2 separate regions of the Homo sapiens genome follow, and region 1 is linked to region 2. Evidence: fine-mapped expression QTL. Tissue or cell type: whole blood. Region 2 holds a variant in brackets; the other region holds the start of a gene. All regions are shown on one strand. Distances are from middle to middle. Region 1 holds the start of CAMK4 (calcium/calmodulin dependent protein kinase IV). Region 2 overlaps CAMK4 (calcium/calmodulin dependent protein kinase IV).

Region 1 (2,909 bases), 39 kb after region 2:
ATGTTTTGGACCTTACAAAAATCGACATCATTGTCCTTTCATTTCCACCTATATATATAATAGATCTTCAGATGAATACTGAAAAACTTGATCAAAAATGGATGTTTATGTATACATTATTCAGTGCTCAAATACTTCAAAACATTTTTAACAGTGACAAATCACTGAATTTTCATTCAGAAGTTTGCCTATTTTACACATCTATATTCAATGAGCCTTCAATAGTACTAGCAAAGTGGGGGGAGAGTGGGCAGTGATCATTACATCTTCCCACTAAATACCAACATCCAGAATCCTGCTCTGGATCCTCCAATGACTTGAAAAAATAAAAAGGCTGTTAGCAATACTATTTCCAGCAAAAAGAGAATGAAAAATGAAATTGCAAAGGAGTAGTAAGTACAGAAGCTGCAACTTGTCAACCGTTGAAATTACATCTTCAGATTCCCTATACTAAAGAGCCTGGATCTAAAATAAGTGTTGAAAATAAATCTCCTTACCTATGGATAACAGAGAGAAAAGACAAAAAAAAAGGAAGTAAGGGAAAGAAAACTATAATTTTCAATGGATACAAATACGAAAGCATATGGAATCATGCAGAAGGCCAAACTGCTACCTGTTTGGATCTTCAGAGGAGGGATAGGGGACATATCTGCAATCCTAGGGAGATGGTCTGTTGCATATATAATTTAAATAAATCACTCCAGCCCATGAAAGAAGGGAAGCAGCAGCATTCTCACTAATTACCACTGCCTGGATCCCATATGCTGCTTTCTCTTTAAAGCCACACTAGTTCATTATTCTGCCTTCAACTCTCTTAAATGATTCATTTCTCCCTTCACTCCTGAGCAGACTCTGCAGGGAAGCTAGTATTTAAGTTTAATTTCTCGTGTCACTTGCTTTGGAGAGCTTGACGAGGGGAAGGAGGAGGAATCTAACTTAATAATTCTGTCTTGATTTGGAGGGGCACCCTCCGGCCCCCACCCTAAACAATAACTAGACAAACAGGACCCTCTGGCAAGCTATAATCGTGAGCAAAGATATCAATTGGGAAAGCAGGGCCCACGTGCGGTGGGAGCTGTCACCCAAGGGAAGTGGCAGCCTGCGAGAAGGAGGGAAGGTGGGAGGGAGTCGGGCTGATCCTACAGCTGCACCGGCCTAGGCGCTCTGGTGGGGTGGGAAGGACTCGAGCCGCACCTGAATGAAGGTTAGCTCTCTCTCAAGACACTAACTAGGTAGGGAGAAATCGAAGGGCACGAAGGCAGGCTCCCGCACCCTCCGAGCCGTCGCTGCGAGAGGGACAACCCCCAGTGCACGCCGCGGGCTTCCCCAGCCGGAGCCCGCGCCTTACCGTCCCAGCTCCGACTCCACCTCGAAGAAATCGCTCAGCGCATCCCTGTTGGAGCCGTCGATCCAGTAATCCGGGACGAGGCTCGCGGTCCCCGGGGCCGCACTGGCGGTGACCGAAGAGCAGGACGAGGCGGAGCAGGAGGGCACCGTGACTTTGAGCATCTTCGCAGCGGGACTCCGGAAGCCGCCGCCGCCGCCGCCGCCGCTGCCCGAGCGAGAAGCCGGCCGCCAGCCGCCGCCTGCGAACGCAGGAGCGAGAGAGAGGCGGCGTCCTTCACGCGCGCACACGCCCACCGCCGCCGCCCGCGCTCGCAGGGACGGTGGGCGGGGAAGGGGGCGAGCCTCTGCGAGAGGGCGCGAGGGGGAACCCGGAGTCGCCGCCCGCTGGAGGGAGACTAGCTGCACCGCTGAGGAGAGAGGCTCCCTCCCCCTCGCTCCTTCCCTCCTCACCCGCCCTCCTCCCGCGCCGAGCCTTTCCCGCCGCCCTCCCTCTTTCCTTTCTCTCTCCCAGGCTGTGGCTGCCGCGGTGCCGGCTAGGGCGGCTCCGGATGCTGGAGCTTGGGGAAGGCACAAGGACCCGCGCATCATCCCACGCGCCCTCCCGCGGGGACCGGAGCTGGAGGGAGACCGTGCGCAGCGGGACGCTGCTCTGGGATGGCGGGCGCCAGGCGTACCCTGGCAGCACCTGGGTCCGGGCGGCCCCGCCGGATAGCGAGAGAGGGACCTAGGTGGTGGTGGCGCAACTCATCCCTCCTTGAGCGCGTCTCCGTGGCGAGTCCCTCCCACCTAACACCAGCTAACCAGCCATCCTCTGTCAAAGCTTATATTGGTGGCCGGGGAGGGAGTACTGTGGTCGCCGATCCCTCAGGGCTCCTGTGCCTGGACCCAGTGAGAGCTGGAGGAAAAGGAAGCGCCCAGGTCCACACTGACCTGACTCACCTTTGAGTGAAGTCTTCAGTTGGAATAAATGCTGTCGTCGCTGCTGGTGGCACTGCCTCCTCGGCACTGCTGGAGCTCCTAAAAGAGGAGATACTTGGCTGTGTCGAGTTCAATCTCAGCATCTGAAGTGGCTCAGAATTACAGTTCTAGAAGGGCCTTGTGGAAGCCAACTAGTAAACCCTCTGCCTTAAGGCAGGACCTGTCCTCATTCATGACAGGGAAGACTGCTACATGTAAAAGCCCTTTTTCTCTTCCCAAGAGATGTATCCCATGATAAGCATTCTTATGTCCTGTCCATCAGCTGTCATGGCTCTTCTTCTCAGTATTAAACATACATCACTTAAACTACCCTTGAACTTTTTTCTTTTCAGATTTCAGCAAAGACGAACAACAATTAGTCATGTTCTGATACATATCTATGACAGTTATTATACCACAACTCATTTCTGGCTAAATAGCTCCAGGCGCTTTCACCTTACTTCACAGGTGTTACTTTTGGCCTTTTTTTTTTCCTGAGTTTCCTCCAACATGCGCTAAACTCTTCCTAGTAAGTCTCCATTCCTGATAGCACCAACCATTAATATGGTCCAATATTTTAATCTAATTTATGGATTTATTATTCT
Region 2 (2,909 bases):
CACTGAATAAAGGCTTAGGGTATCTGATAGGAAATTGGAGAAACTTCAAACCAACATACCCTTCATGCATTCAAGAACCATGCAAGGAGTTCTTTACCTGCTGGGAAGTTTTATGCATCTATGCATCGTTGGGAAACTACTAGGTCCTCCACCAGTTGTTTATACATCAACCACCCAGGCAGCTGACATCACCATCGGCACACCAAACCCCTGGAGCGACTGGTAACCACTGCACATGGAACAGAGCCACTGCTGCACCAAGATAACTGCAAATCACACCAACAAAGCTGACAATCCCCAAGGCACCTGTGCAACACCTGCCACCATCTTGCAGCAGGACCACAGACAACAACACAACTCCACCCACAACTCCCACCAAACCAAGTCAACATCACACCAAACTACATTTAAAAAAGAGAGCCAGTCATTCAAAAATTGGGTAGCAAAACTGTCCACGGAGAGAGAACAATAAGGGCAAATGCCCTAGGAAAGTAGTAAGCTTGGCAGTTTCAAAAGACAGAAAGGACAATGTTCCTGGGAACTCATAAACCAGGGGAAGAATGGGAAGAGGTGAGGTGGCTTTTTTTTTCTATGAGAATGCTTTATTAGGCAAAACCACATACTATGAAAGTGCTTTAAAATGCAACAGGAGGAGACGTGAAGACACAAAGAAAAAGTACATAGTGACACGTGGCTATCAGAATACACTAAGTACAGAATCCACACTGCTTCCGCCCTTTACAGAGTCTAGAGCCTATTTTGGGGGTTTTGAGAGCCACAGTTAAGAGTTTGGAATTTATTCTGAGCATACTGGAAAGCTATGGGAGGGTTATACAGCTATCAATCAGAACAATTTGGACTGGTTTACATTTTTTAAAGTTTATATTAAAAATGGATTATAGCAGGATGTCCAATAAAGAGATTATTTCAATAGGCCATTTGAGATGTAGGGTGTTGAACTGGATTAGGGTAGAGATGAAATGGACATGGCAATGATGATAAGGTTTGGAAGAAGTAGACTGCTGTGGGAGTAATAACAGAAAAGAAATGGAGTTGTGAAGAAATCTGGAAATAAAAGTAGAGAAGTAAATAACAGTATTTCCCAAAGAGCTCAAATTATTTATTGTCCCTTAACAGCCTTCACTGGCCACTCAGTCAGAGCCCTGACCCAATTCCTATCTTTCCTTCATTTTCCTCATTCCATCCAACTTTACCATTAACAATAATTATGATGTATATAACATAAAAGTTCCAGTACTGCCTGAAGATCACCAGCTGTATTTATGAAATATATTTCACATAATAGGTATGGAAAACTGATGAAACACCTTTCCACAGAGTGAAAAAAGGAAAATCACCTGACATAGTCAAGATTTATCATTGAAAGT[G/A]TTCCCTTTAGAAAAATGGGGACATGAACTATGATCTCTTTTCGCTGTCTTACTACTTCCTTTCTCTTCAGCTATCTGCCCTCTGGCTTAGTATGATTCACTTATATTAGAAACAACTCAGCCAGGGGGTTAAATTATCACTTTATATGTTGCCAAAAGACTCACTCTAAGGGATACTTCTATGACAAAGAGAAAGCAATGATACAAACCAATCAAACCAAAGTATCTGTCTGTGTGATAAATACATTCACCTTTAATAAATAGTAAGTCAGAAGAAAGAAAAGTAGTAATTGCAAAGCATTTATTTTGAAGTGTATTTCCGTTTTTGTTCAAAAGGACAGAACCTGGGAGACAAATTGTTCACAATTTTAGCATATTATTACAATCTATGTATAAATTTCCTTAATAATAACAACTGCCCTATTGCATAACCGATTTCATTGTTATTGATGGAATATAAAAAGCCACATGAAAGCAAGTAAAGTGGGTCATTATTTACTTTTTAGTTTATATTTATGCATCTGGAAAAGATGGCCATAAAATCCCCCTCAGATTGATTCAACTTTAGACAGGCTTCTTCCTAAGGCCTCTGACCTCCTTTTTAAAATGTGTTTCCTTTAGAAAACTTTCCATTATAAATTCTTGCTCTGCTACTTTAAGACATAAATATTCTACAACCCAGGAATGTCTTTCTCAAGAACCTGGGAGCCATCCCTTTTGACATGTAATCAAGAAAGATAGTACCCTCTCAGCCTCTGTAGGAGAGTGGGAGCCTAACTTCAATAAGCACCAGTGGCCCAATCATGTTGATCAGCCCTCCACTAACATCCTCCCGCAATTTTCCACCAGCTCACCCCAGTGCTTAGAAACTCCTCCCCCTTTGGTTTAGTGGAGTTGAGTTCAATCCTTCTCCTCTATTGCAATTTTCTTGAATGTCTTTTTTTTTTTTTTTTGCCCGTTTAGCTAGTCTAGTGCAATTTTTCTTTTACACATCAAGTGCCAGAATGAGGACCTTAAACTGTGTCTCTACTGCCTGTGAAGGTATGTCAGCAGAGTGAGGGGCTCAGAAACCCATGTAAGGTGCTAGTGAACGAACACAAGGATGACTCTGCAGACCTAAGACCTCAAAAGTATTAAACTCTCAAAGATAAGGACTTCTCCTTAATATCCCAGGCTGTGTACCCCAAAGAAAAGAGAAGGCTTGCTGCACAAGTTTTGCCTCTGGACAATGGCTAAGCATGTAAAGAGGAAAAAAAAATACTTTTAAGAAGATCATAGTCCCCAGATTGGCACATATCCCAGCCCCAGAGAGCCTAAACTGGTTCACAAGGGGAGAGAAGCAGTAAGGAACAGTGAGTCATAGGCAGGGCCCCATACCTGAAGGGGTAAGAGGCAAATTCTGCTTGTAATCAATGCATAAGTCATTAGAGAATACAACAGAAGTAGGGATGGAGGGCATTCTCTCCAACTTTTGCATGATAAACGTGACACTAAAATTTTTAAAAAGATGGCTCTTTTCCA

Evidence for each region.
Region 1: CAMK4 starts here. The variant in region 2 is fine-mapped to the expression of CAMK4 in whole blood (TOPMed, PIP above 0.99).

What each region holds. Positions count from the first base shown.
Region 1 is chr5:111,223,084-111,225,992 of GRCh38, reverse strand. CAMK4 (calcium/calmodulin dependent protein kinase IV) reads right to left here and starts at 1,609. Exons shown (of 11, transcript NM_001744.6): 1 at 1,349-1,609. The coding sequence starts at 1,509. RefSeq lists enhancers at 1,371-1,420, 2,381-2,480 and a silencer at 1,531-2,020.
Region 2 is chr5:111,261,613-111,264,521 of GRCh38, reverse strand. The region is part of intron 1 of CAMK4 (calcium/calmodulin dependent protein kinase IV); the gene reads right to left. Among named protein-coding and RNA genes, the nearest start is that of CAMK4, 39 kb to the right of the region's middle. The variant G/A (reference allele first, on the strand shown) is at 1,389.